Linked DNA regions of Homo sapiens: region 1 is linked to region 2. The links come from fine-mapping of genetic effects on gene expression. A gene starts in region 2. The other region holds a variant in brackets. All regions are shown on one strand. Distances are from middle to middle. Region 1 overlaps ELK3 (ETS transcription factor ELK3). Region 2 holds the start of CDK17 (cyclin dependent kinase 17).

Region 1 (16,904 bases), 160 kb after region 2:
GTAAGGAAAAAGTTGGAAATGTTTGAGAATTACCAAAATGTGACATTGAAACACGGAGTGAGTGTGTGCTGTTGGAAGAACAGACTGGCGCTGACAAGACTTGCTCAGCGCCAGGTTGCCACAAACCTTCGATTTGTAAAAACCACCAATTAATTGTGAAACGTAATAAAGCAAAGTACAGTAAAATGAGGGATGCCTGTATGAGGTGTGATAAGGTAACCACGTGACACAGGCCATGCCAAGGCTCCCTTACTTCTCCCCTTCTTCCTGCCATGATTCTAGCTGGAAATAACCAACCTTCGGAATTTGTACCTTCAGGGTATCGGGTTATTACAGCACACACAGCTTTCACCTCTTCCAAAGCCCACCACTAAGCAAAGCTGACAGCCCACAGATTATCAAATGTTTATGTGCACACAGCATCACACTGCACACAGCACACCCCCCACACACAGAGAAAAGGAGAGTTTCTGTGACAAAGTGCTCAGGTAAGAGGAAAACCACTGAAGCCTCACTGCTGCCTGTGGAACACCCTGAACCCCACAGTTGTCCTTCACTCCTGAGGCCGAAAGGAATTCCACAGAATGCCTGGCTGTTGAGAGCCACGCTGTTTCTGGCTGTCACCTGGAAGACAAACTACTGAGCTGGTGCTGGTGGGTGAGTTTCTGGGGCACCCCCTGAAGCAGCTCCCAGGGGAGGGAATCTGAGAGTCCAAATCTGACACTGACATACCCTAATCCTAAACCACCCCTGGCTTCAAGATATCCTATCTGATCTCAGGGAATCCGCCTGGGTGAAACCGGCTGCAAGAACTCAACTCTGAATAAGTACCACACCCCTGACTACCACCCGGGCCCCTCTGGTGTCTCCCTCATTGCCCCTTCTCTCCCTCCCTGTTGGCCACCCATGGCCATGCCAGGAGCAGAGCCCACACTCTGGGAATGTGAGGGAAGTTCAAAGTGGGGTCTGAGTCCCGAGGCTCTACCATCTCCCAGTGTAGCTGGTGACCCCCTTAGTTTTGCGTGGTTTAGAGGACTGCCTGGTGCCCCTCCTCCTCCTTTGACCCGAAGGCCCTCTCTGAGCCAGGTCCCTTTACTTCCACTCTCCTGCCCTGGGTCCAGATGCTGCCTGTTGCCTCCCTCCCCTCAGGACCATTTCTGGGCTTCCTGGCACTAAATCATCACAGCCCCACCCTCACAGCTTGGCTGAGGACCAGGCACCCTCACTGCCTAAGGCACAGGTCCTCTTGTAAAGATCCTGGCTTTCCTACGCCTTCCCACCTAGTTTCAGGCCATGCTGGTGGCTTCTGGCTCCTGGTCGTGCCCTCTGCATCCATTTGTTGGGCATCCACCCTTGATCCTTCTCTCACGCCCTCAGCCCCACCGATGGGAGCCACCACTCCATCCACATTATCCACAGGGCTGGCTGAGCTGACTTCCTCTGAGACAGGGCTGGCATCTGCCTCACTCTGTTCTGAGAAGGTGATCCAGGCTCCCAGGGAACACAGACACCTAAATCAGAGTCAGCCCTGGCCTGGCTTCGGACCTTTCTCACCCTGACAGTTGTAAACACACAGGAGGCCAGGGGAGGAGATGCTCAGATCATCTACCCTGGCCCTGCCTCTCAAGATACTCCCCTGAGCTACATCAGGAGCTGCTGTTTCTGAGCCATTTGCTCAGCAGCCCTTGGTCACTGGACAGCCTTGCTTAACTGGAAGATGCCTGATTTAAGAGCACACGTGCTCACTCTGACCTATATCCTGATCCCCTGGCCCTCCCCCTCCGCAGTGGCGCGCGTCACCACCAGCTCACAGGCTTGAGCTGTCATGAAATCCTGGGCAGAATCCAGTCCAGAGAAAGCGTGGAGAGGACAGTGGCCCAGAGCTGCTTTCAGGTGCTCCATGGACGGCCATCGTGATCAGGGACACTGCCTTCTCGCAGCGGGAATGCATTTCATTTGAGAGCATGGATTCTGGAGGCAGACACTGGATCCAAAGCCACCTCTACCACCTATTGGCTGTGGGACCCTGGACGAACTACTTTACCTCTGTGCCTCATTTATCTCAGCTGGGAAACAGGATGATAATAATAGCACAGGCTCAGCATCCCAAATCCAAAAATTCCCAAATCCCAAATCCTCCAGAATCTGAAACTTTCTGAGTCCTGACATGACACTCCAAGGAAATGCTCATTGCAACATTTTGGATTTCAGATTTTCAGATGTGGGATATTCAACTGGCAAGTATCATGCAAATATTCCAAAATCTGAAAACATCTGAACTCTGAAATGCTTCTGGTCACAAGCATTTTGGAAACAGGATGCTCAACCTGTATCCACGTGACAGGGCTGCTGTAAGTGTGGATACAGGCAATGCATGTAAAGCATCTGGAGCAGTGCCTGGCACACGTGGGGAGCCCGTCATATGCTGCCGCGGCTGCTGCTAATGACAACAGGGACAACTACGATGAGATTACAGAGGCAGGGGACGGGTGCAGCTCCACGGTTAACAATGCTACCAGGTGTCCCCAGCTCACAAAGCCTGTCCATGGTCCCATTTTCCACACATGGAACCTGGCCCAGAGAGCAACCGCCCACAGTCCCACTCCTAGGAAGCAGGGTAGCCAGGAACTGAATGCAGGTCTGTGAACCTAAAACGAATACTCTTTTAACCTCTGCCACTAAAATTGCATCCAATTTTCAAGGGGAAGGAGAAATATGGTTTCCCAGCACCTACTACGCCTTTGCACTGCAATTGTCAGCTGGACAAGAAAGAGCATCTGAATATCTGATTTAAAGGAAAAGGCTGCTTTCTCTTTGGGACTAATAACAACGAAGGCTTTTTTGGCTCTGCAAGTTTGCTGTCCTCTCGCCAGTGCTGTGGACTGGGGCTTTCTCAGAGTAGTGCTGCTTTCAGCGAAGCAGCTGTTTGGGGTGGCCCCTTTGTTTCTTATTACCTACGCTATGACCACAGCTCCACACTGACATGCGATGGCGGCATCAGTTGACATCTATTTTCTTGTTAACAGAACACAAGTGGCTCCTTATTAAGCGCCCCCAGAGAAGATTCTGCCATAAAAATTTCATAAAGCCCAAGCGCCTCCCGAAATGTAAACTGGCCCGCTCAACTTTCCCTTGGAAATCGCTGGTGAGATCTGCTTTGTCGGCCAGTGTGCGTGTTCCACCTATGGTCACTTTAGGCCGCTAAAAGCAAGAAACCAATCAAGCATCCCACTAGAGTCGACAAACCAAACCCTGTCTCATGTGCACCCCTTGGTCTGAGGATGGAAAAGCAGCTTCCCTTCACATTTACACAGTGACCTCGGTACGAGTCATAGGACAACGTTTTGAGGGACAGAAGGAAGTCTCTTTAGTTGCTCTTCCTTTTTTGCTAAGCCACTGAAGCTGGCTGTGGCTTAGATGACAGGAATGACTCTTACCTGTGCGGTGAAGAAGGCTGGGGTGAGGGATCCCGAGGGGAGGGCTGGGCTGTTGAGGGCGATGGAGCCGATGTCGGTGCCGGAGAGCACCAGCGGGGGCGCTGAGATTTCCAAGCCTTTGGGTTTTTTGGCCTTTGGGGGAAGAGATGGAGACTTGGTCTTGGAGCCCGATGACAGGTTCAAGGGCTCCAGGGAATCGGAGTCATGGCAGGCGGCCTCCAGGAAGAGGCTTCTGTGTTCAGAAGGGAGGGGTGAGTTGGGGGACAGGGACGGGGACCGAGATGAGAAGGGTGAGGCGGATGAAATACTGGCAGCGTTTGGCAACATTAAAGAGGAGATCTTGGCCGAGACGGACGAGGCCAGGAAGGCGGACGCCGCCGCAGCCTCTGACGTGGAAGGCAGGGACACCACCGGCCTGGTGACGTGCTTGTCGGTTTTATTGGTCACAAACCTGATCACAGTCCTGACTTCTTCCACGGGGGGGCTGTCTTCGGGCGGCTCCTCCAGCTTCTCCGTCTTGATGGCCTTGAAGGCGTCTGGTGGGTTCTGCAGGGAATTAATGGTGAAGGACGAGTACAGGCCTGAGTGGATGTATTCGTTGCGGCTCGTGCTTCTGAGGGCGGCCAGGCCGTGTTTGTGGGCCTCGCGGCCCTCCGGAGACGCCTTGCAGTCGCTGTCCTGCAGCAGAAGGCTCTCCCGGCTGATCTCCACCGCGTGAGGATCCATCTTCAGGATCTCCGGGAAAGAGACAAACTTGTACACAAACTTCTGCCCGATCACCTTCTTGATGATGTTCTGCAAATACAAAAGTAGACGTTGAAAATCTGAGTGCACCCGAGAAACCATGTAAGAGCTCATGATAATGGTAAATGTCGCTGGCAGAAGCACCAAAATGTTCCTGATTTACATTCTTGGCTAAGGAAAAGTGGAAGGAGGAATGAAGTTGGAAGTAGAATTAGATGTGCATTCCAGTTCTGCCATTACTAGATCTTTGTGATCTTTGGCAAATTAAGTGCCACTTTGAGTTTCCTCGTCTGTAAAGTAAGGAAGATGATGATGATGATGATGATTTCTTAGACAGGGTCTCACTCTGTCGCACAGGCTGGAGTGCAGTGGCACGAACATGGCTCACTGCAGCCTCAACCTCCTGGACTCAAGCAATCCTCCTGCCTCCACCTCCTGAGTGGCTGGGACTACAGGTACATGCCACCACACCCTGCTAATTTTTACATTTTTATTTTTTGTGGAGACAGCATCTCACTTGGTTGCTCAGGCTGGTCTCAAACTCCTGGACTCAAGCAATCCCCCAACCTTGGCCGAGTGAGGATTATTCTATGTAATAACATAGTAACAGCTGCCATTTATGAAGCCTTTACTATGTGGATGGGATTATTCATATCTTATCTCATACAATCTGAACAGCAATCCTAAAAGGAAGGTGTTGTGACTCCTATTTTAAAAATTTGGAAAATAAGCTTAGAGCACTTCCCTAACTCACATGACCACCTGCTAGGAAGTGAAGTGGTAGAGGCAGCATGTCCTGAACCATAACACAGTATTGTCTTACCTACCTCTGCGAGTCAGAAGAATTCAATGAAATAATAATGAGAAAGCATTCTGTAAGCTGGAAAGCATTATAAAATGCAAGTTATCATCATCAAACACTACAACGTTTTCTTAACTCAGTCATTTTTTTCCTTTTTAATTTTTATTTTTTTTGCCAAGAAAGCCACTGGAAGGAAAACGAATTGTCTACTTTGGATATCTGTGACATTCATTGACAGTATTTTTAGTTGCTAGCGTCTACTTCTGGCTCTTCAGTTTATGGCTCCAGTCCTCAAACATTAGGCTATAAATGAAAAGCAATAATCATTGCAAAAGTTTTTGCAACCCTTTGGGAGAAGGGACTTTATATTAAAGGCTATGCTGTTCTTGAGGTTTATTAAATGGATACTTTAATTCCCTGCCGAACCCACTGGGTTCTATATTTACCTACCAAATGCTTGCGTGTGCCTTGCCCTGTGGATGCATCTTGGCGTCCAAGGGGCTCAGAGAGACAAAGATGGTCTCTCTCAAGCACAAAAACCCAGCACCATCCTATGGGAAAAGGACTCTGTTTCCTTAGAAACTATTCCACCTAAAACCAGGGTATGAGTGAGGATTAAAAAAAGATCATTTCAAGTAGAAGAGCTTTAGAAGCAGCTCTGATTGAGTGCCTCTCTTCTGTACCAGGGGTTGTACATAAGGCACCTCATTAGATCCCCACATTAGCCCTGATGGAGGTGGAGGATGTCATCCTTCTGACACAAACAAGATCCCAGGGATGGAGAGTCATTTGCCCAAGAACCACCAAGATCGACAGATTCTAAAGCGTAAGCTTTTTCACATCCCCACACAAATTTAGGGGGAGAGAAATCAAAGATCCCCCAATAGACATGAAATTCAACTGAATGTTGATGTGCCTTTTGAAATCATAGTGTGGTTCTAAAAACATGTGTTTGCCTGCCATCCTTTACATTATGACATTCTGATTTGCCTTTTCCCTCCTTAAATGATGGCAGCGAAGGGCACATTTAAGGGTCCCATTCAGCACAGGAGATCTCATACAGAGTCATGGAGAAACCTCACTGAGCACCAGCATACAGGCCGACGCCCAGGGCACCTTAGATTAGAGTCAAGGCCAAACAACAGTTCCAGTGGCCGCGGCCACCTTGCTGCATCCTGGAGCTCCCACCTGCAACTTAACCCGCGGGGTCTCATTTACGCCAGCGACCTCACACTCACGCTGCTACTCGAAGCTGAACAGCCCTTAAAAACCTTTAGAGAAATTTGGGAAACTCAGATGTTTTCCACCTGGACTTTGTTAGCAGCGTCTCTGCCGAGTGCCCTGGGTCAGAACATGCCCAGGAAAATCAGCTCCCAGCAGGAAATAAATTAAATAAGGGTGTCATTGGACCCACCTGACCCAGGGTCAGTTCCCATTAAAAAGAAAGTGTGCTGGCCTGGTGTGTTAATGCTTCCTTCGCTAAAATTTTAAGTTATTTTTAGTTTTAGCTCATAATATTTTTCTCCCTGGGGAAAAACTTTATTTTTTTCCCTCAGCGAGTTTGAACACTCATCTAAACTGAGTGAAGTTTTTAGAGCCTAAATAATTACACAAAAGACAAACTTCTATAAATGTTTTATTTAGAGCCAAAATAAAAACACAGAAGAAAAAGGATCTGAATCATTTATTCTAACAAGTCTTAAATAACTGTTTCTTCTTTCCCAAAAAAAAAAAAAAAAAATTCTAATTTTCTTATAGGTTTGGAACATCATGTCTAAGTTGGGATTACATTCATGAACACATCAAGAAATAACCAAGGGCTGTGATAAAAATGACAGAAAATGTCTCTCCTGCTCAAAAAATGGTTGGGAACTGAAAGGCAGCCTCAGACAGATCATATGGCCTTGCTGTGTTAAAAAGAACATGAGGAACAACCCACCTGTCCACCAACCAGCAAAAGGATAAATGAAATGTGGGGTGTCCTTACAATGGAATATTATCCAGCTGTAGTAAAGAATGAAGCTCTGCACCAAGGCCTAGAATTCATTATTTGAGGAATAATGAATTACTAGACTATAGTAAGAACAATAAGGAATATTGTTTGGAATAGTAAGGAACAAACATAACATAATGGGCCTCAATTTCATTAAACAGAATCATAGATTTTTTTTTTTTTTTTTTTT[G/TG]AGATGGAGTCTTGCTCTGTCGTCCAGGCTGGAATGTAGTGGCGTGATCTCGGCTCACTGCAACCTCTGCCTCCTAGGTTCAAGCGATTCTTCTGCCCCAGCCTCCCAAGCAGCTGGAATTACAGGCACCCACCATCATGCCCAGCTAATTTTTTTTTTTTTTGAGATGGAGTCTCGCTCTGTTGCCCAGGCTAGAGTGCAGTGGTGTGATCTCGGCTCACTGCAAGCTCCGCCTCCCTGATTCACGCCATTCTCCTGCCTCAGCCTCTGAGTAGCTGGGACTACAGGCGCCCGCCACCATGCCTGGCTAATTTTTTTTAGTAGAGATGGGGTTTCACCGTGTAAGTCAGGATGGTCTCGATCTCCTGACCTCGTGATCTGCCTTGCCTCGGCCTCCCAAAGTGCTGGGATTACAGGCGTGAGCCACCACGCCCTGCCTAATTTTTATAGAGACGGGGTTTCACCATGTTGGCCAGGCTGGTCTTGAACTCCTGACCTCAGGTGATCTGCCCGCCTCAGCCTCCCAAAGTGCTGGGATTATAGGCATGAGCCATAGAATAGAATATTCTATTCTATGATTCACTGCAAAGTGAAAGCAGCCAGATATTACATGATAAAGGTCACATATGATTCCATTTATATGAAATGTCCAGAATCATGATATCTATACAAAAAACCAGAAAGTAGAGCATGGTTACCTAGGGCTGAGAGGGGTGGAAGGAAGGAGGTAATGAAAATGTTCTAAAGTGGGTCACGGTGATGGGTGCAGAACTCTATACTCAGAGCCACTGAACTGTATATGGTAAATGGGTGAATTGTATGGTATGTGAATTTTATCTTAATGAAGCTGGTTTTTAAAGAAAAGAACATATAAGAATCTTAAGTATTTTACGTGTTTAAGTGGAAGACAGTGGGAACTTTCTATAGCTAGAAGCAACTGTCATAACCCTACTCAGAATGTAAAAAGGGAGACACTGGGAAGGGCCCTTCAGTAGCTGCTGCCTCTGCTGGGGGAGCAGAGAGGACACCAAGAGTTTTCTGGGGAAAGGTTACGCAGTGACGGGGATGGAGACAATTTACTAGCTGGCCAAAAGGAGGAAGTGACAGCCATTGGAAAGAACCGAGGCAGGTCATGCTTCTCTAGAGACCAATGGGAAAGACGGATTCGATCTGGCTACCTGGAAACCTGCCAGGGTCGAAGGCTAAAGAGTGGAACTGGGAGGGAAGAGGGCAGGGTCGGGTACAGTAAGTGGGTCAGAGCAGTGCAGCCCAGTGACTCAGCACCGGGGACATCTGCTAGACGAGGGGAGCTGGTAAGGAAAGCCCCCCACAGCGGTGCCCACGGCTGGAGGATTAGGAACAACCTGGGCTCAGAGGACGTGTGTCCCTGCAGCTGCACTGACAGCCCCTTCTTCCTTATCTTCCAGGGCTGCCCCCAGAAGCAGCGCCATGTATGTTTGAAGATCTCTCTGTGGCTTCCAGAGGGAAGTTTCCTTCCAAGAGTTTGCTGAGAAGACTCAGTGTCAGGAATAATACAAGCTAGTATGTGCTGAGCACGTATTATTTGTCAGGCTATCTTCTAAGAACCTGTCAACCATCAACTCACTCAATCCTCTTAGAGAATGGAATGATTATTATCCCCATTTTGGAGATAAGCAAGCTGAGGCTCGGAAAGTATAAATTATACACTGTTGGAAGCTTGTACCTGGAGAGAACAGATGGTACCCAGGCAATCTGACTCCTGAGGTCTTGGCTACTATGAAGGGTGACACAAGATTCAGGCCAACTTAGGCAGCCCGGGACACAAGCACACTTGGGTAAGGGCTCTTATTATGGTAAGTGATGAGGATATTTAGAAAAAGTCGGGTTTCCACCCCCTTCAATCCCAGACTCACAAGTATTTGTTGCTCACAGTTGCCTGGTAACCTGAGCGATGCTGGTCTGTGTCGGGTGGAGCTGAGTGCATCTCCAGCGTGGTTTTAGAGTGTTACACACATCCGCTTCCCTCTTACATGGGTGGGACCAGTCTCTTTGTAATTTCCCATTAAATACGTATTTGCAAAAGGGCTGCCTCTTTGCCCGGCAGGCATTCCATGTGAGGTTACGGGCAGCAAGGATGGGACCAATTTTAGTGAGAGGAAAAAGCAACATCCCCTTCAAACAGAGCCCAGTGGCAGTTCCAGGCAAAAGAGGAGGACCAGATACCAAAATTAATCCCTCACCCCGTCCAAGTTGCCATTTTGAGAATGCAGTAGTAGCCTAAAGGGCAAGTCGTCCCTTTGGGACAGGATTCCGGGCAGACCTGTGCAGAAGAACCCTTCCCAACTCACCAGCCACCTCTGGGGACCAAGGCATCCCATGACAGCAGCCCATGACAGGATCTCGTGACAGGATCCCTCAATTATTTCACTTTAACTGCATAGAAAATGCCAAGAGAGCAGGTCATATTTCCATTTCCATTTCAGTGCTGTCTGTTACCCTGACAGGTTACAGGCATACCTACCTATAAGAAAAGGTATGGCTGTCCACAGTGTGTTTACATATGTACACACACACACACACACACACACACACACACAAACGCTCCACTGTGCCCTTTGAAGAGGAAGGAGTCTGTGTAAATAATCTCAAATAGTAGATAGATGAGAAATATTTCGATAAGTTTTGTAATTTAAAAAAAGCATATGCAGTGCTAGGTAATGAAAAGATGCATATGGAATTAGATTTACCTTCTTGATGATGTTATTAGGATTATATTTAAATGAGTTAATTAAATGTTTGTTGAATGAATTACCAACTATAAGGAGAACTGACCCAGGCATAAAGCCACAGGCATGAAAGACACAATTTTCCACGGCTCATTCTTAGGCTGGTTAAAGCTCCCTGTGGGTGTATCCCATACATATACCTGCTTGTTCTTCTTTGCTGGCATTTTTAAACTGAAAACTCCCAGGCAGATATTAGAGGCCATATGCAAACTCCACATGCTACATACAACCTCACACCTCCCGTGAGAGCTTAATGAGCCATAATTTCACCCATCCATTTACGTGGCAAATATTTGCTGCATGTGTCTGTCCACCCACTCTGGTCTGGCACCCCAATTTTGATCCAAGGTTATGCATCTGGAGTTCACGTGCTTAGTCTTGTTATCTGATCTTCCGTTTTCCTCCCCGCGAGGAGCCAGGCCTGTGGCGAGTTCCTCGTCATTCTGGTCTGGCCCCTGGATCCTCTGCCATTTCAGGGCACCCTGGAAACACAGCGCTCCTGCCCTCTGATTCTGCAACTCTCCTACCTCGTTCTCAAAACTGAGAATGTCAGCAGCTCAGTAAGCAAGCAGGATCGGTTGTGCTGAAGACTTTTCCTAACAAACAGGCCCTTCTTAACCCCTGCACTGGGTAAGGGGGACAGAGCAGGGGACCTTTCCAATAAATACCCACTTGACCCTATCACAAAGACTGCTGCAGGGATTAAAAGGAGAGGCTCCAGAGTCACTGCCTGAGTTCAATGCCTCAGCTTCTCATGTATAAAATGGGGACTGATCCATCTGCCTCATGGGACTGAATGAGACATCCATATACAGCTTCTATCAGAACGCCCGATGCATCCACGCATGACAAGCCCCATAACATATACTAGCTATTAGTATTATCATCATTTTTACACTCCCATTTAAGCAAAAACAGAACAAAACATAAATATCACCCTGTGTCAGCCCTAATGACAATTTAATAGACAAAATTAACCCTCACAGAAGGCTGCGCATATTCTGCTAGCTTTGTCCAAAGTTCTGGGTAACATGATCAGTTGCACAGCAGGCAGAATTACATCTGGTTTACATATCTCAACTGAGCAGGGAAACATGATGTTTTTATTTAGTTAGGTTCAGACAAGAAATAGATACAAGGCTTATATTATATTGTGCCTAACACGGCCAGCACTTGACATCCACTGTGACGAAAACCTTACACAATCCAATTAATTTGGGGGTTGTGGGGAGGTTCTAGGAGGGGGACACACGGAGCCGCAGATGTGAATAACTGCTAGATCCAAGTGCTCCGCTTAGATGCTGGCCGCAGCCTACAGGCGAGACGCCACATGTCAGGCCCCGAAAGGTGGTGCAGACACTAACCAGGCACCCAGCTCATCTCAACTGCTCCCGGCGGCTTCTCAGAGCAGAAACCATGCTGCCCAGACTGGGAGGGAGAAGAGCAGCCTTGCAGCGTCTGCTTGGGCTCAGGCCTCTGCTCAGGGTTCCTGGGAGAGGCCAACGGGAAGCTGCTGGCCCTGCGCACTTGTCAGCAAGACCCGAGGCAGGAACCTGTTCAGGTGCTGAGCAGACACACGAGACAATGCATTTATTTGGGGCACACTCATTTTATCGTGGTAGATACCCTACGTGAAAGGAACCAGTACAGAGAAAGGACAAGGAAAGAAGCCAGCATTTATGAGGGCCAGCTGCATGCTGAGCACACACAGCTGCCTTGCAGGATGGGCACTGTTATCCCATTGCAGAGATGGAGAAGCCAAGGTCCCCCTGGACAGTGAGGTTATATCCAACTGTCCACCACCTGGGGGTAGGTTAAATATTGGGAGAGCCATACAATGGAATACCACGTAGCTACTTCAGGGGACACGACATTGCTAACACTTCCCCATACCTTTAAATATACATTAGGTGGGGAAAAAAAACAGTATGAATAATTCCATTATTTTAAAAATGTTCTATTGCATATATATTTATATGTTTTCTACTGTATATATGCATATATGTGTAAATAAAAGGAGGTAGAAAAATTAATCTTAAAAGAGGTATACTAAAATTTAACAGTGATTTTTCATATTTCTTTTTGCTTATGTGTATTTTCACATTAAAGAATGTATATTTGATATGTATTACTTGTCAAATTAAGACTTTTTAAGGGAAAGAAATAGGAACTAAAAAGCTGACTAGCCCAAGGTCACACAGCTTGTAACTGGTGGAGCCGAAGTTTGAACCCAATTGTATCTAGTGCCAAGACCTAAGCCATTTCTGTTCCACTACCACACCCTCTTCCAGAAAGCAGCTGCATTTGGAAGCAGAGGCTGCTACTAAAGTAAATCCGACAGGGCCAAGGGGTCTCTGCATTCCAGAGTAATAGTGGGGTTAACTGCAGAGTGCCTGGGAAAACCAGCTCTGTGCTGAGAAAGCATGGGCCTTGCTTGAGAACAGTTATTTCTAGCTCTTCGGGCGGAAGAGACCAATCTTCCGTAAGGTCCATTCATTACCTAGAAATAGAACTGCCTCTGCCAATCCACAGGGTAGAGAAGGTGCCTGCTTTGGAGGGACACCCTAACATGAGGCACGGGGGACCCAGCACTCCCAGTGCAGCAGACTGGACATGAGCAGCCAAACTATAAGTGGCATGCCATCCAAGGGACGAGGGTGACAGGAAAACAACAGGAAGCTCGTGTCCACCATATACAGCCCGGTGATGGCACCCACTGCCAAGCTCCCCCGGCTGTCTCCAGGCCCGTGCCCAGCAGCAGCTCACACAAGGGCACAGGCCAGGAGCCTTGACGGGCCAGAAGTCATGTGGACCCAGTGCTGGGGTGAACAGATCTGGGTTTGAATTCCAGCCTCTCTGCTTACTATGACCTTGGGAAAGTTACTGAACATCTACACGGGGCTCAGTTTGCTCACCCCTAAAATGGGAATAAAAATACCCCATAGGCTAATTTTTTCTAAAGACTCAACGCAGTCAGTGCCTCACTCACACAGGTCCTTACAACATGACCCTCACCCAGTGAATCTTGCTTAGCATGCAATAATCTAATCGTACACACTGCTCATTATATCACACTTTTCATTTTATTCTGCCTTCCAGGAAAATTTCTTGGGTGGGCACCTTACTTTACAGTTTACAGAAGGCTCACACAAAATCTCATGTTAGCCTCACAACGCTTTGATACCCACTTCACAGATGTGAGACCCGAGGCTCCCAGCTGAGTTCACAACACCCACAAGTAGCAGAGGAGTATCTCCAGGCCGCGGCTTCCTGGCCAACACATTTTCTTCAACTCCTGCTTTTGGGTTCCCTTCCAGACCACAGTCTGACTCACTCCTTCCTGACATGAAACCCGAAGTGTCCTTTCTCCAAAGTTAGAACAAGTAGTTACTGTATCTCTCCGACAAGCAAACATTCTTTCAGCAAACATTGTTTTTGTTTTTTAGAGATGGGGTCTTGCTGGCATTGCCCAGGCTGGAATGCAGTGGCTATTCACAGGCACGACTGTTACACACGGCAGCCTGGAGCTCCTGGGCTCAAGCGGTCCTCTTGCCTCAGCCTCCCAAGTAGCTGGGACTATAGGTTCAAGCCACCACACCTGGCTTTCAGTGAACACTGAATACACACTCTCCTATGGGTGGCCCCATGCCAGGCTCTGAGGAATGGAGAAGGAGTGAAGCCAGCTTCTGTCCTTGAAGTGCCCCTCAGTGGCTTGGATGCAGTGTGACATCCCCTGCCTCTGCTCTGTCTCTGCCATTGAAGCAGAGGGGACAGTGAGCAGTCAGCTGGCCATAAGAGACTCTGCTACAAATGTCTGGGGGGCAGGCTCACCTCACACCCACCCCCACTAAAGAGCATCTTATGATCCTGGACTCACGGGCTCAAACGATCCTCTCACCTCGGCCTCCCAAAGTAGTGGGATGACAAGCGTGAGCCGCCACACCCAGCTATTTAAGAGCATCTTATGAAAGGGCTCCTCTGACCCATAAACCTGAGCTGCTTCTCACCAAGGCAATCTTCCCCCACCCACCGCTGCAGTGAGTTTAATGTCCCTGCCAAATTCATGTCCACCAAGGACCTTAGAATGTGATCTGATTTGGAAGCAGGGTTCTTACAGATGTAATTGGTTAAAGATGTCGAGACAGAATCATCCTGGATTTGAGGTAGGCACTGAAATCAATGGCTTCTGTCCTCATGAAGACACAGAAAGACACACACAGGGAAGGTGGTCATGGGACGTGGAGGCAGAGACTGGAGTGAGGCAGCTGCAAGTCAAGGAACACCAAGGGTGGCTGGAGCCCACAAGAAGCCAGAAGAGGAAGGGGGGATTTTTCCCTAGGGCCTTCAGAGGGAGCGGGGCCCTGCAGATACCTGGATTACACACTTCTGTCTTCCAAAACCTTCAGAGAATACATTTCTATTGTTTTGAGCCACCAAGTTTGGGGTCATTTGTTACAGCAGCCCTGGGAAACTAATACACCCCTTTCTTAAAATTGTCTCTGTTCAGCGAGGCAGAGGAGGCACAGCCTGGGGCCGCCACTGGGGTGCAACTAGCCCTTCCCACTGCGATGGTACAGGCACCGGGTAAGGTGGAGCCTAGGCTGTCCCTTGTGCAAAGCCGAACTTTGGAGTGTGCACACACACACACGTACACACCCACTCACACCCATTCCAGACTTCTAAGAATGACGTGCTGCCAACAAAGGCTGGAACTCTGTCTCTGAACAGGCCAACTCTGTCGGCTCCCGGGAGAGGTTTTCTTGTGGTTTGGGTTGAGGTTTCTTTGCTTTCTGGCACCGGTAAACTGCAGCGTGAACTATCTCACCAAATTTGGCCAGCCTGAAGTTGAGGCGCTCTTCATCCCTGCTGCCTGAGTACACGTGGCACCCTGAGGGTGCTAGTGAGAAGTGCTGGCTTGCTGGCCTGGCAGGACACCCCAACCCGGGAGGATTCGACTGGACGTTCGCAGCATTTTTCTCCCTGCCTTCTTGGCTGGGCGCTGCTGCTGGCTGGACCTGGAGTCCTGTCTCCCTCCTGGCTCTCCTTAAACACTCAAGGGTACTTTTATTCAAAGGCCTTTTAAGTGTTAATAACATAGAACATAAAGCTGCTCAGGCGGGGTGGTGGCTTACACCTGTAATCCCAGCAGTTTGGGAGGCCAAGGCAGGTGGTTCAACTGAGGTCAGAAGTTCGAGACCAGCCTGGCCAACATGGTGAAACCCCATCTCTACTAAAAATACAAAAATTAGCCGGGTATGGTGGCACACCTATAGTCCCAGCTACTCAGGAGGCTAAGGCAGGAGAATCGCTCGAACCCAGGAGGTAGAGGTTGCAGTGAACTAAAATCTCACCACTGCATCAGCCTGGGTGACAGAGCAAGACTCCATCTAAAAATAATTAATAATAAATAAATAAAAATAAATAAAACTGCTCCCCAGTGCAAGTCTTTCCCTTTCCCCTGCTGGGTGGGGGAGCTGCTAACACTGACCTTGACCTTCCTGTGTTGAGCGGCCACCTCCAGCGCTGGCAGATGGCATGGCCGGGCAGTGTGTGTCATTAGCCACAGGTGGTCTGGGAGTGTCTTCTCATCCTGGCTTTGTCACCAGTTGACTTGGAAACTCCCCTCCCCTCGAAGATCCTCACTTGCTAAAGGAGGGGTAGGTAGGGCAAGACGCTTTCTTGGATCCTCTCTTGAGTGACTTTCCAAGGTGACAGACTCCCTTCTGTGCCATGGAGAAGGATGCTTGTTTCCTACTCATTCCTACTACACTTGATTGGTGCTGCCACGCCCTCGGCTCTGCAGGATGCAGGAAATGGTAAGAAAACCCAGCATGCGGCCCCGTAAGGGAGACGCAATGACAGCAGGAGAAACCAAGTCCCTCTGGGAGGGGCCATGGAACAGACACGGCCATCACCAAGTGAGGCGCCAGCTGGAGGAGGCAGAGAGAGGAGTCTGAAGGGTGGCCAGGAGTGAGCCAGGCAAGAAGGGCAGGGGGAAGGAGGGGGCCTGAGAAGATGCTGGGGTGGGGGGCGGCTGTGGGGGTGCAGGGAAGGCAGTTGGGTTGGGGTGAGATGGTGAAGGGAGTTTGGACTCCTTCCTGGAGGCCGCCGAGAGCTGGGAGGCGCACACGCAGAGGAGTGCCACGCTCCAGTACTTTCCATAGGAAGCGTCTTCTGGAAGCGTGGGGTATTCCGGGGCCACTCAAACTCACATTTTCAGCTGACTCAGATAATCTTGCCAGCAGTTTTTCCACTGTCATTTCAATTAAAAAATACCGGGGGCCTGTCTCTCCTCCCTGGCTGCCCTTGGGGTAATCATCAGCAGTACTGGGCATACAGGACTCAAGTCTGGGCCCAGGGCTCTGGAGCTGTGTCGCCCTCCAGCTTTGGAAGCCCAGGCATGGGCCTTGGGGGTCAACACTCTTAGTCTGAAAGCTCTGCCACCGCCCTGCTGCTGCATCTTGAGTCCGTGACTTACACCTCTTGGAGACTCAGCATCCCCACCTCTACAATGGGCTCAATATCGACCACCAGCACTGGTGCATCACAAATTGGAAAATAAGCTAATAGATGTAAAAATACCTAGCACAGTGCCTGGCTTAAAACAAAATGCTGCACACACGTAAGCATCTCTTTTTTATGTTACAAATTTGGGGTAGGAACTGAGAAGAGCCGTGGAGGAGCACAGGCAGGGGTGGGGGAGAGGCCGTGCAGAGGAGCAGCTGAGGCGTGGGTGGACGGCGGGTGGTGGGTGCTATGCTGTGAATGTTGGAGTTTTTGTGAGTTTGTCTACACAACCACTAAATTTTCCTGCAGCTCAAATCCCAGAAGCAGGAACGCTCATGCTGGCAAACGCAGACTCGGTGTGGGCTTGGGCAACAGCCTGACGTAAGTGGATCTGGCAAGGCCGCAAGAGCTTTGGCAGCCGAGCCCCTGGCGCAGAAGCATCCTCATCAACACAGTGTTGACG
Region 2 (14,786 bases):
CTAGAAGTCCCCCTCTTCTACTGAGCAGCATATTCAAACTTTTATCTTAGGCTATTAGCTCTTTTTAAGTTATGGCCAGACCTTCTTCACCCCGATAGACACTAAGCCCTTTGAGGACTGGGACATTGCCTGTGTCATGTTTCCATTATTTACAGTGCCTGGTTCATTGTAGACATGAAATATAAATTGTTTGAAGGAATTCTTGAAGGAAATGGTAGTTGAAAAGTATATATGAGGCCGGGTGCGGTGGCTCATGCCTGTAATCCCAGCACTTGGGGAGGCCAAGCCGGGGGTGGATCACTTGAGGTCAGGAGTTCGAGACCGGCCTCGCCAATATGGTGAAACCCTGTCTGTACTAAAAATACAAAAATTAACTGGGCTTGGTGGCGCACACCTATGGTCTCAGCTACTTGGGAGGCTGAGGCAGGAGAATAGCTTGAACACAGGAGGCGGAGGTTGCAGTGAGCTGAGATTCACCACCGCACTCCAGCCTGGGCAACAGAGCAAGACTCTGTCTCAAAAAAAGTATATATGACAGTTAGATAACTTCTAGTTTCCAATCCTAAAATTGTTTGAGTTCCTCCGATAAAATAAATTTAGATTTATAGCTGTACTTGTAAATACAGGTTATAGAAAGCAGGTAAATAAGAATCTGTGGTTCAGGTGCTTTGGTCCCCTTACAGGAGAATCTTTTCAGATCACAAACGACATGTATTTTGTTCACAGTAGCTATTACTGACCCTTCATATTCCGAATGTTAGGTAATACTTATGATGAATAATACACTAAGAAATAAACATAGATTTTTTTTTTTGGCCTAAATGGGGCTGCAAATCTTCAAGCAAAAAATGTTTCTTTTTCTGCTTTACTTTTTGCTAAATATTGTAGTGCATCTCCATAGAAGACAGATGACTTCTTTTGAGCATTATAAACTCTGCCTTCCTAGATGCATTTTCTTCAAAGTATTTTTTTCCATGACTTTTGCAGTCATGGTGTGCGGGAGTGGAAGGAAGAACACTAACGTTTACTCATTGCCTGTAAAGTGCCAATTATTGGTGGGCACTTTTATATTTGGTGTCATGTTGAATCCTCATGAAAGGCCCTATGAGATACAAACATTTTACATATGAAGGAACTGAAGCTCAGGAAGATTAACTATCTTTCTCAATATCTTACAATTAATGGTGGAGCCCAGATCTAAACCCAGGCTCAGGTTCCTTTCACTATTTTTTTTTTTTTTTTTTAGAGACAGAATCTCACTCTGCTGTCCAGGCTGGAGTGCAGTGACACAATCATAGCTCATGGTAATCTTGAACTCCTGAGCTCAAGTGATCCTCCCGCCTCAATGTCCTGAGTAGCTGGGACTACGGGTGCAAGCCACTGCATCAGGCTAATTTTTTTTCTTTTTTAGAGACCAGGTCTTGGCATGTTACCCAGGGTAGTCTGGAACTTCTGGCCTCAAGCGATCCTACCACCTTGGCCTCCCAAAGTGCTAGGATTACAGGCATGAACCACAACACCTGTCCCACTTTGAATTCTATATTCTGCTGCATCATGCTAAAATTTTTTAGAACATTTATGTGAAATAAAAAAGGCCTGAAATATTTTATTCCATCATGCCTAGCAGTTGATAGAAAGTAGTAAAGGAATAAAGCATGATGCACAGACAGGCACTGACTACCTTATCAGTGGGTTCATTTAAAATGATGTGAATGATCCCAACATGTAAAATAACTTTTTATTTTATTTTATCTTATTTTTTATTTTTTCATTACACACCACGATTCTTCAAAAATCTTTTTAAACAGATTACATTACTAAGTGTTTTTTCTTAACACTATAAGAAAATGATCTTGTAAACAACACAAGTGGTCTTTGGAAATGTCTTTGCATTTGCAGAAGGCATCAGCACTTCTGATGCCTTCCAATCAAACTAGAATTTAAGGATGAGTAATTGTTATGAGCTCAAGAAAACAATTTTAATTGTGATTTATCTAATGACTTTGAGTATCAGGGTGCCCAAAGAAATAAGATATCCTACCTAATGGCAATTTTCTCCCTGCCTAGAAGGAAAGCACCTTTAATTGCACAGATGATCTACAGTTCAGACTAGGAATATAAAAAGAGGCAAATTTACATTAAATACACACATGAGATGGAACAATATCTCAAACTTTTCAGATTATTTCCACATTGAGGAAGTAGAGGGAGAAGGGAACTGACATTTATTGCATATTACAGTCTGCTTTAACAGGATATCCTGGATTTACCAGGTCAATATTTTACATAGAGTTAAGTAGGTTTCAGGCACGCCTCACTCACTGTTGCCCACTGCTACACTCTTGCACTACAGAGATAAAATGTCAAAAAAAATATTTTGGCTGGGCGCGCAGTGGCTCACGCCTATAATTCCAGACTTTGGGAGGCCAAGGCAGGCAGATCACGAGGTCAAGAGATCGAGACCATCCTGGCCAACATGGTGAAACCCCCTCTCTACTAAAAATACAAAAATTAGCTGGGTGTGGTGGCACGTGCCTGTAATCCCAGCTAATTGGGAGGCTGAAGCAGGAGAATCACTTGAACCCCGGAGATGGAGGTTGTGGTGAGCCAAGATCATGCCACTATACTCCAGCCTGGCGACAGAGCAAGACTCCATCTCAAAAAAAAGAAAAAAGAAGTATTTTTAAAGTATACTTATAGCTTATATTAACCTCTTCTTTGACCCTGAGGCTAGAAACCAACTATGGGTTAAGCGATGTGACTTCTATATAGATATACTTACAGAAAGCCCACATTTTTAACAGTGTGTTTTGAAAAATTCAGGCTTGTACAGACAGGTCAGATAATACAGTGGTTTCAAATGGCCATTAAACAGCACAGTGTTTTGGATCCCATTCTCTTTCTGTTTTTAACCGAAAGATTAACATGCAATAAACTGCACATCTTTAAAGTGTCCAGTTTGATAAGTGTACACCCATAAAGCCATCACCACAATGATTTAAAAAAGAGAACACATTTGTCATCCTCCACAAGTGTCATGCGCCTTGGTAATCCTTCCCTTCTTCAGACACAGGCAACCACTGATCTGCTTTTTGTCACTATATTTTGCATTTTCTATAGTTTTATAACAATGTAACCATACAGTGTGTGCTCTTTATTTGGTCTGACTTCTTTCGCTCAGCGTAATTATTTTGGGATTCATCCATGTTGTTGGATGTATCAGTAATTCATTCCTTTTTATTGCTGAGTAGTATCCTACAGTATCAACTTGTTTATCCCTTCACTTGTCCCTTTTTTTGTTTTGCCCTCCTATACTTGTCAAAATTTATACTTTCTCTAATTTTCTTTTTTTCTCTTTTTTTTTTTTGAGACGGAGTCTCGCTTTGCCTCCCATGGTGGAGTGCAGTGGTGTGATCTCAGCTCACTGCAACCTCTGTCTCCCGGGTTCAAGCAATTCTCCTGCCTCAGCCTCCCAAAAAGCTGGGATTACAGGCGCCCACCACCATGCCAGGCTAATTTTTGTATTTTTAGTAGAGACAGGGTTTCACCATGTTGGCCAGGCTGGTTTCGAACTCCTGACCTCAAATGATCTGCCCATCTCAGCCTCCCAAAGTGCTGGGATTACAGGCATGAGCCACTACGCCCGGCCCTCTCTGATTTTCAATTTCTGATTATGCCCTTGGCATTTACCCATGTATAGTGGACACCAGTGGTTTCTGACCGTCGTGCATTCCACCCCACACCTGTTACTTCTGCTAGAAGCACCCTCCACTCCTTTGGACAACTGCGTCTTCCCCATTCCATGTAGTCTGGTGGGACCCTTCTGATTAGTATGATGCAGGCCAATCAGAGTCTTTCCTTGGAATTTTCTAAATGGACCTCCTTCCCCTTGGATTAGGAACTGTGAAGGTGTGATCTCAGAGCTGTCAGTGAACTTATAAAGAATGAGGTTGGCACATAGACAGAAGCCCAGATGAAAGACAATCTTCCTGAATCTGGCTAGTGATAAAGCCCACTCATCCCTGGCTTCCTGCATTTTAATTAAGTGGGTGCCCCGCATCCACCACCCTAGTTATGGTAAAAGCACCTGTTTCTTGTTTTGGGAGGACCGCCCTTCCCATACTCTCAGCACATGTGATTCAGCTGAGGCAGACTCCACCCTGTCTTTGGGGTTAAGCATATGTCCAGGCCCTAGCCAATCACTCATCTGCCTTGGCCACAGTGACAGTCAGTGATTTAAGCTGAGCTAAATAAAGCTAATATTTGTGCTACTAAAGATGTTACTCCCTTTTTCCTTTGGGACTTGAACCTAGAAGCTTAGAGCTATAAATATTACAGACATCTTTTGACCTAATGGGTGGAGAGCCAAGGCCACCAAAAGCAGAACTGAAAGGAGAGGAACCAGGTTCTGATGACATCGGGACAGCTGTTGGCTAAGATGACCTTAAAGTCTGCGCCATCCCTAGTCTTTTTTTTTTTTTCTTGAGACAGAGTCTTGCTCTGTCACCTGTGCTGGAGTACAGTGGCGTGATCTCAGCTCACTGCAACCTCCACCTCCCAGGTTCAAGCAATTCTCCTGTCTCAGCCTCCTGAGTAGCTGGGACTACTGGCGCATGCCACCATGCCCAGCTAATGTTTGTATTTTTAGTAGAGAAGGGGTTTCACCATATTGGTCAGGCTGGTCTCGAACTCCTGACCTCAGGTAATCCACCCACCTCGGCTTCCCAAGGTGCTGGGAATTACAGGCGTGAGCCACCACACCCGGCCCCTAGTCTTTTCAATCACACAACAACAAAATCCCCTTTCTGTATTGTTTGAGTTGTTATTCATGTCACTTACAACAGAAAAACTTGAGATACAATGCATTACATTCATTATCTTATTTAATCCTTACAACCTGGCAAGTAAACTGTTAACCCAATTTTACATATGGAGAAACTTTTAGTTAAGTAATTTAGCAAAATCTCATGGTGACAAAATTAGGACTCCCATCCAATCCAACTGATTGCAAAGCCCTATTACTATGCAATGTTCCTTCAGGGCTAGAACCCTGACCTGCTTAATTTATGCTTTTCTACTCTTTCTTTCTATTACATGAAGCTTAACACTAACAACATCTGCAGCTTTCTTATTGCTGAAATAAAACTTGTATAAGACTTAATTCTCCCTTTTCCCTGCTTCTTACCTTTTTTGTCTTCTTTCCCCTCTTCCTCGTTTTTTATTTTTCCATTTTTCCAATATCTATATTCCAAATATTTGCTCTAGTCTTCTTCACAGATCATATCAATTCTAGGATGGTCCTGGGAGTCATGTAGGCTAGGGCAAGGCAAAGTTAGTTTACTGAAATTTGCACTTCTGAACTACTAATACTAGAAGACTACAAATCAGTCCTATCAGCTTACCTAAAAGCATATCACTGGGCCAGATTTCAAAGATGACAAACCATCCCTCCCTTCTCCCATTAAAAGGATGAAAAGGTGCCGGGCACAGTGGCTCACACCTGTGATCCCAGCACTTTGGGAGGCCGAGGCGGGTGGATCACCTGAGGTCAGGAGTTCGAGACCAGCCTGACCAACATGGAGAAACCCCCGTCTCTACTAAAAATACAAAAATTAGCCGGGCATGGTGGTGGGCACCTGTAATCTCAGCTACTCTGGAGGCTGAGGCAGGAGAATCTCTTGAACCCGGAAGGTGGGGGTTGTAGTGAGCCAAGATCACGCCATTGCATTCCAGCCTGGGCAACAAAAGCAAAATTACATCTCAAAAAAAGGAAAAAAAAAAAGGATGAAAAGGCCAGGCGCGGTGGCTCACGCCTGTAATCCCAGCAGATTGGTTGGCCAAGGCGGGTGGATCACCTGAGGTCTGGAGTTTGAGACCAGCCTGACCAACATGAAGAAACCCCATCTCTACTAAAAATACAAAATTAGCTGAGCGTGGTGATGCATGCCTGTAATCCCAGCTACTTGAGAGGCTGAGGCAGGAGAACTGCTTGAACCTGGGAGGCAGAGGTTGTGGTGAGCCGAGATTGCACCATTGCACTCCAGCCTGGGCAACAAGAGTGAAACTCTGTCTCAAAAAAAAAAAAAAAAAAAAAAAAAAAAGGATGAAAAAGGCCAGGCGAGGGGGCTCACGCCAGTAATCCCAGCAATTTGGGATGCAGAGGTGGGCAGATCATTTGAGGTCAGAAGTTTGAGACCAGCCTGGCCAACATACTGAAATCCTGCCTCTACCAAAAATTAGCTGTGTGTGGTGGCAGTCACCTGCAATCCCAGCTATTTGGGAGGCTGATGCAGGAGAATCACTAGAACCCAGGTGGCGGAGCTTGAAGTGAGCCGAGATCACACCACTGCTCTCCAACCTGGGTGACAGAGGGAGACTCCGTCTCAAAAGAAACAAAAGATGAAAAGATGAAAAAAGATAGTGATAATTCCCACAAGCTCCTGGGGAAATGGCCAGTTGCCACATTCTTCTTCTTCTCAACCTGCTTAAGAAGGGAAAACCTATACTGCCCCAGTTCCCACTTTCCAACTTTTTTTTTTTTTAAGCAAGACATTTGTTAAAGCTTAAAGATGACTTCATCACACCTGTAATCCCAGCACTTTGGGAGGCCGAGGCAGGTGGATCACTAGAGGTCAGGAGTTCGAGACCAGCCTGGCCAACATGGTGAAACTCCGTCTCTATTAAAATACAAAAATTAGCCAGGCGTGGTGGCGGGCACCTGTAGTCCCAGCTACTCTTGAGGCTGAGGCAGGAGAATTGCTTGAACCTGGAAGGTGGAGGTTGCAGTGAGTCGAGATTGTGACACTGCACTCCAGCCTGGGTAACAGAGCGAGACTCCATCTCAAAATCTCAAAACAAAACAAAACAAAACAAAAACAAAAACAAAAAACAATGGCTTCATGTTATGCTTCATTTTTTTTTAAAAAGCTCAAATAAACTTTAAATGTATTGTATTTGATTAAGACCCACATCTGGTTTTTCTCAGAGGCAGAACATCAATCTAGTTAAGAGGTATTGATATTACATTTAAAAAAGAAATGAAGAAAAAACTAGTTAATCCCATCTTAATCTCATAATAGAGACGTGTATGCAGTCTTACTGGAAGCCTGGAAACTAACTCTCCCTAAGCATTTTGTCAGCAACTAGAGAAAACTTTCATTTCAAAATAAAATGTTTGAAAATTTTGTCCCCCTTAACTGCCAAGATTCAGTTTGGTTCCTGGATTCATTTCCCTTGTAAGGACACATGACATCACTCTGCTGAAAGCTTTTTATAACGCTCCCTGGACGAGACCAAATGTCTCAGATGTTATTCATCCTCTAGGGTTAAATCTGGTACACCAAATTTGAAATTTTACATGTAAATAGGGAAGAAATTTTCCCTCCCCAAATTTGTAACTTGTAAATCTATGGAGGTATTCTGATAATATCAAATAGATCTGCTCTGTAAAATCTCTACCATTAAGCTTTAAGTGACAGGGTACAACTGTATCATTATGCAATGGTATATAGCTGTTTTGCAGGTGTTGGGATGGTACAAAATATTAAAAATAAATGTTAAGGCCTGGCTAGATGTTTCATTTTTGAAGCAGGTTTTAAAAAGCCTTTGACAAAACTCCTTTCTTGCCTACAGCTTCATTTTTGCCAAATGTAAAATTATTTTGCTATTGGGGGAAAATTGTTGATTGCTGTCCTTAGCTTAATTTGCTTTATTCTTCTTGCAAAACAAGCAAACAAACACACAGACTTCCTATATGATTCAGCCTAGTAAAACAGGGAATGAACCCAGACAAAAAGTGTTTTTTCTATTTGGTCAGTAATCTAATTTCTTTGAGAATTTTTAAGGAATATGAAATAATTAGAAATAGTCCAGAAATTCAGACATATGGAAAATTGTTTTGTAAACAAAGCTATGTATTGATGTTGTATAGAGCAGTGATTCTCAAACTTTATTGTTCAGCAGAATCTTAGAAAATCTCTGTAAACAGTTTGCTGGGCCCCACACTAGAGTTTCTGATTCAGTTGGTCTGGAGCGGGAACTGAGAATTTGCATTTCTAAGAAATTCCCAGGTAACACTGCTGAGAACCACTGATGTAGAGCAATTGAAAACCAGCTTAAGTGTTTCTTGTTTGTATCTTACCTGAAAGTTTCATATTTGTTTCCCAGACAGTGTCATTTTCAGAATGTGAATCCCAGCAAAGATTTTCTGGACTTACCACATTTAACTCTCTTTGTCCAAAGTTCAATGACCTTCAAAATTTTCTCCCCTCAATATTTTTATATATGTCACATGATATAGCTATTCTATGGTGAAAACATTTTGGGATATACTTGTTTCACTGGAAAGAAGATTATTTTTCAATCTCAGAACTTCTAAGAGCCTTAAATACGTAAATGTATATTGTGAATTTCCAAAAGGGAGATAAAGTATGTGGCATTCCTCAAGTGGATTTGATCTTGGAATTCTTCCTCAATCTTTCTCCTCCACTAAGCACTATGGAATATCTATTAATGACAGTTAGGGAAATATTCTAAGTAATTTTATAATTTAACATAGTTTTACAAGGTAAAAAAAAAAGCCTATATTACAACCTACGGAAAAAACAACTAACATGCTCACAATATTACATATAATTTTTTTTTTTTTTTTTCAGACAGAGTCTTGCTCTGTCACCCAAGCTGGAGTGCAGTGGTGTGATCTCAGCTCACTACAACCTCCACTTCCTGGGTTCAAGCGATTCTCCTGCCTCAGCCTCCTGGGTAGCTAGGATTACAGGCTCCTGCCACCACGCCTGGGTAATTTTTGTATTTTTAGTAGAGATGGGGTTTTGTTATTTTGGCCAACCTGGTCTCGAACTCATGAGCTCAAGTGATCCACCTGCCTCGATCTCCCAAAGTGCTGGGATTACCGGTGTGAGCTACCGCGCCTGGCCAAATTTTAAATCGGTTTAGAAAAGTAATTAAATAGGCCATGGGGCTGGGTGCTGTGGCTCACCCAGCACTTTGGATCACTAGAGCTCATGAGTTCGAGACCAGCCTGGCCAACATGTCCAAACCCCGCCTCTACTAAAAATACAAAAATTAGCCGGGCGTGGTGATGGGCACCTGTAATCTCAGCTATTCAAGAGGCTGAGGCAGGAGAATTGCTTGAACCCAGGAGATGGAGATTGCAGTGAGTTGAGATGATGCCACTGCACTCCAGCCTGGGTGACAGAGCAAGACTCCCTCTAAAAATAAATAAATAAACAGATAAATAAATAGGCCAGGGGTGGTGGCTCCTGTTTGTAGTCTCAGCACTTTGGGAGGCCGAGGTTGGAGGATTGCTTGATGTCAGGAGTTAATACCAGCCTGGGCTGTCGGCATAGTGAGACTCCATCTCATTTAAATAAATAAATAAATAAATAAATATGAAAAGTAATGAAATAAATATTGTGCAATCTGTAATTTTTTTTTTCATTGAAAGAACAAATCCTCCAGGCACGGTGGCTCACGCCTGTAATCCCAGCATTTTGGGAGGCCGAGGAGGGTGAATCATCTGAGGTCAGGAGTTTGAGACCAGCCTGGCCAACAGGGTGAAACCCTGTCTGTACTAAAAATGCAAAAAATTAGCCGGGCGTGGTGGCGGATGCCTGTAATCCCAGCTACTTGGGAGGCTGAGGCAGGAGAATCGCTTGAACCTGGGAGGCGGATGTTGTAGTCAGCTGAGACCACGCAACTGCACTCCAGCCTGGGCAACAAGAGCAAAATTCTGTCTTAAAAAAAAAAAAGAAATAACAAACCAATCAATCAAATAATCACCTAAGTTTTCATTATGAATTCGTCTTTTTTTTTTCTTTTTGAGACGGTGTCTCACTCTGTCACCCAGGTTGGCGTGCAGTGGCAGAATCTCAGCTCACCGCAAACTCCGCCTCCCAGGCTTAATGGATCCTCCCACCTCAGCCTCCCAATTACGAATTCTTTGTTATGCTAATGAAAGATGTAGAAAGAGGAGAGGGTGCTTTGGATGAGACAGAATAATCTTTTTATTTCTCATGGAGTAATGTTAATCTAATGATATGAAGGTATAAGTATTAATGCTGAAACTCAGAATGCCATTTCATAGACTCCCTTTTTTGGTGATTTTTTGATATTTACTAAAGTACTAATTTAGATGAGGCAAGTATATGAAAATCCTTTCATATAAATAGGCCTTGTATAAATATCAGTGTTTCTCTTTAACTTAAAAAGAACTCTGAAAATGATGCTACATCTTGCTATATTATAAAGTTCCAAGTTTGACTTGGACAAATCTAAAAAGCCTCATTAACAGTGCTTTTAAACAAAGCGCACTTGTTCTAACGGAAAGCTTGTTATGTATATTTGCATTCTTGGTTGGTAAACAAGTGTTAAATACGCGTAGAGCATAATTGTTGCTAATTTACGGGTCCTGGTAATTTTAGAGGCATGGGAAAAGCCTGATTGACACGTACGATCGTTGGATATAACTGTAGATGCATTTAACTTTGCCAAACAAAATAAGAGAAAGATGTCAGCATGCAGCATTTTTAAGGGGGAAAGGATTCATCCCTAAATCCAAAAAGATAATTCCCCGAAGTTCTTAGCACATAATGTGATTTGAAACTTCAAAGCAGCTTCTACTTCCGGGTGTTAACATGGGAAAAAAAATTTATCTCACTTCACAGGACTTTTATGTGGGTTTTTTTTTCTTGTTTATGTTGTCTACATCCGGTCCCTACTCTCTTCTTTCAATCCTCTCATTATCTCCCTCTAGGGGTTTAAGTTTGTTTTAACTTTATGCTTTTATCCTTATTAGTGGAAAAAAGTGGGTCAGTATTACTTTAGTTTGTCTTCACTGCCACTCTGCTGTTCATTCCTGAACTAGCTTTTAGCCTCTGGGAAAGGAGAAAGTAAAAACAGTTGCAGAAACTGGGCCAACCTCTCGCGGCCCGCCTCCCCCAAGAAAACAAAACCTAACCCGTGCAACAGTAGTCCTTTCTGTTTTCATAGCACCTTGTATTTCTCCGCTCATAACGTTCAGATTTTTATGATAGTTATTGATCATCTTTCATCCCAGCTAGACTCTCCGTCCTTAGAGGACTCAGCATATTGCCGGGCACATGATAATATATACAAAACACTGTACTGTAGTTTAAATGAATAGATGCCGTGTGTGTGAGAGACTGCGGCACTAGTACCCACGTACCCACACACAACAAAGGAGAAAAGTTGCAGCCATCAACATCTTTCAGTGTGGGTCCTTTGACATGGACTCTCTAGAAAGTCAGTGGAGAACTGTGGCATGGACACCTTGTACAGTAATTACTTGTATAACTGAAGCACGAGTTTTGGTTTGGTAGCGGGAAGTTGAGGGGCAGGGGGATGTTGGAGGGGCTGAATTATTCACATAATTTCTCCCCCAGTCGCTGCGGACAGGCACTCATTCCGGTGGGGTCCCCTGGCCCCCTCCGCCGCTCCCCCGACGCCCGCATTTCGGAGCGGGCAGTTTCCCGGGGACACCCGCCCCGCCCTGCAGGCCCCGCCCCCGGCCGCCGGCCCCGCCCCCGCCTCCGCCGCCGCCGGCAGGGGTCGCGCTGCCCCCGGCGAGCCGCTCAGGCGGGGGTGGGGTAAGCTCCCGCGGCCGGTCGCTTTTCTCCGCCGCCGCTGGTTGGATCGTTTCAATAAAAGTGTTTTTTCTCTTGCACTCGCTCTCCTCCGGGGAACAGGCGGAGGCGTCAATCCGCAGCCGCCGAGTGTGAAAGCGACGCACACGCAAGGAGCGAACGCGGCCGCCCGCAGTCTCCTGAGCTCCCCGCGGGCCGCCGCAGAGCCGCGGAGAAGGAGCCAGCGCCCGGCCAGACAGTCTCAGCCCGCCGTCGGCGCCCGCCGCGCTCGCGCCCGGCTGCTCCGAGGGGATTAGTGGGCCGTCCGCGCGGCTCGTCGGCGCGGGAGCCATGTTGACCGAGGGACTTGGCAACGCGTGAGACACCCGCGGCCCCTCCCGAGGCTCCGGACCCGCGGCGAGAGCCGGAAGGCGGCTGTGGCGGCGGAGGCCTGCGCTCGGAAGCGCCTCACGTCTGCCGGCCGCTGAGACCCGGACTTGCATCCGGTCGCCGCGGGCGTCCGCGGAGCAGCTTCCCCCCGCGCCTCTCTTCGCCTCGCCTCGGGACCCGCGGTCCCCGCTCTTGCTGGTGAGTTGGCGGCTGGCGTCCGCGCCGCGCTTTCCCCTGGTGTCGGGTCGGCCGCGGGGCCGGGAGGCTGCGTGGGACAGAGGCGGGGGCGGGGGCTACTGGGGGCGCGGGTGGCTCAGGCCCGGTCGGGAAGTTGAGCGAGGAGGCGCGGCGCGGGGGGCTAGCGTGCGCCTGTCACCTCTCCGGTCCAGCGAGGACCTTGGGTCGCCCGGGGATTTCCGGGGCTCGGGTGGGGTGTGAGTGTCTGCGAGCTGCTTCCCAGGAGGCGCCGACAGATATAGACGCCGCCGCCTCCGGTGCTCGCTGCCGCTTTGGTCTGCGGGGGAGGCCGGTCTCCTCGCGAGGCGGAGGAGGGGAAAGAGGCAGAAAGTCCCCCGAGACACAAAGGTCCCCTCGGCGGGGGTGGAGCTGGAGGCGCAGGCGACGCTGCCCGGGAGGGGAAGGAAGGGGCGCGGGTCCGCGGGAGGTGGGCGAGGAGGCGGCGGTCGCGGCGCCTGCAGCTCCTTGGAGACGCTGGCGCTGTGCGCGGGTGGGGAGCGCGGAGGAGGAGGAGGAGCCCGCGCGTGGGAGCGGGTAGAGACAAAGATCAGGGCAGCCTCCTGCTGGCGGGTCACACCCCGGAGTGTTGGTCAAGAGCGGAGGTAGAGGGAAGGTGGGAAACCCAGCAAACCGATGGGGAGGGGAAAATGGGGGGAGGAGGGTGCCTAGTGCTGTCTCCGTCGCAGTTGCTTTTCTCAGCATTTTTGTGCCCGATGCTATGCCCGATGCTTTTGCTCCCCAACTCAGCTGGATAGCTCCAGATTCCCTCCCTCCTGTCACCCCCACACTGCCACATTGACTCTCCTGTGGTTTTTCCCTCGTTCTCCCCCTACTTTTCACCCACTCCTTTTCGGGTAAGCAGTATTTTGCTTTCAGCTTGGGGAACATTTGTTAATGACAGGATGTCTGAGCTTGTTCTGACCCTGAACTGCCTTGAACTTCTCTCTCTTCCTCCCACCCTTTCCTTTTCTGGGATCTATAATGTCACATGGCCGTTAACAATTAGCTTTTCTTTTGCAAAAGTGGCAAAAAGCGTTTAGCTGAAATCTGTGGCTCTCGCCTCCTTTACATGAATATGTCCACCAAAGACACCTCGTTGGTCATGTTCTATCACCTCTTCGTCAAATTGACATCAGGTCCTAACAGGTCACTTTCAAGATACAGAAGAGGCAAATTTTGTTTTGAGACTTGGCCATTCCTAGGGTCAGCAAAGTGTATTCCTGGCAGCCAGACCTTCAGTCACTTATCAGGAAATGCTTGACCTAAAGACAGACAATTCTTTCCCCAAACTTTGCTGTTTCTTTTTTGAGTCTTTGTTGAAAGATTTCTTTTAAAAGGCGTTCGTGTGAGAAGATCACAGCAACAAATCTGGCTTGTTCTGTTTTAGACTTACTTTCTTAACTCTTGGGCAGAAGAAAATGAATGAGATTTGAAGACCTTTGATACCTTGGGTAGACAAAGCTTGCCTTGAAACTAGAAATAAGACGAAACTAGATTTTAAGGGGAAAAAATTTGCTAGTGGTAATATAATTGGTTTTGTTTCATTTTTTTATGAGTCTGAGGAGTTGACATTAAACGTTGGGATGTTGCTTTGTTAATGAAGTCATTTCAATTTTTGCAACTCTTAACATCTGCATGCTTCCATAAACAGTGGGTTGGAACAAAAGAAAATGTGACTAAGGGATATTCCTTAAATTCTTTTTTATGTTATGAGAGAGAATATTGGAATATAAAGAATGTTACTTTATCTGGTAAACCATCTCATAGGCCAGAAGCACTAACAGTTTGAATGGTTGGCTTAAAAAAAAACGGGAGTCTTTGAATTTAAGCTTATGTAAAATTACTATGCAAATATAGGTTATTATTTATTTTTACAGTGAAAATAAAACACTATTGAAGTATAAATGGAAAGAAAATAAAAGCAAAGCCTGTTTAATATAGAGACATTAATGTTGATATCACTGTACGAACAGTCATAGCTTGCTGCTCACTGCCGTTAAAGGGTTGACATACAAACATTGTGGAAGAGATTTCAGTTTGAGGGCTAGTGTCTGAATTATGGACTCCTTACCCTACTCCACCACTTAAAACATTTTAGAGACTTTTGTGAAATTAACAGGTCATATAATTAATAATTGTTGTTTTATGTACATTTATTGAAAGGCCATATTGAGGCTCCATTGATTTTTTTTCCTGCATATTTATCAGTATCGAATTAGAAAATTGAACCTTCAGTGTTACTAGATGGAAATCTACCAAAAAGTAGCAAGGTTTACGAATGGTGGGATTTATTGGTGATTAAACATTTTTTTCCTGTATTTTATAAGTTTCACATTACATTTACAATGAGAAAAAAATGTAAATGTAGAATTAAAGTCTTGTTAATATCGTAATTTGCCTATTGCTGTACTAAAAGAAGCTTCTATAAAATGTATCATTCTCATCCTTAGATTCAGGCCAGAAAGTAACTTTCAGTGTTAGGTATTTGAAATAATGCAGCCTGTCATATGTACTCTGGTTACCAGAATGAAAAAACAAAAAGAGATACATACATAGTAA

The links. PIP is the estimated chance that this variant, and not a neighbour inherited with it, causes the effect.
Region 1: its variant is fine-mapped to the expression of CDK17 in whole blood (INTERVAL, PIP 0.92).

Annotation. Positions count from the first base shown.
Region 1 is chr12:96,234,268-96,251,171 of GRCh38, reverse strand. It overlaps ELK3 (ETS transcription factor ELK3), which reads right to left. Exons shown (of 5, transcript NM_005230.4): 3 at 3,438-4,232. LOC124902991 (a long non-coding RNA gene) reads left to right here and starts at 15,576. Exons shown (of 2, transcript XR_007063414.1): 1 at 15,576-15,750; 2 at 16,751-16,904. RefSeq lists enhancers at 12,640-13,140, 15,182-16,166. The variant G/TG (reference allele first, on the strand shown) is at 7,167.
Region 2 is chr12:96,397,388-96,412,173 of GRCh38, reverse strand. CDK17 (cyclin dependent kinase 17) reads left to right here and starts at 11,735. Exons shown (of 17, transcript NM_002595.5): 1 at 11,735-12,188. RefSeq lists enhancers at 4,431-4,480, 10,752-10,971 and silencers at 7,979-8,078, 11,392-11,721, 11,812-11,991, 12,172-12,331.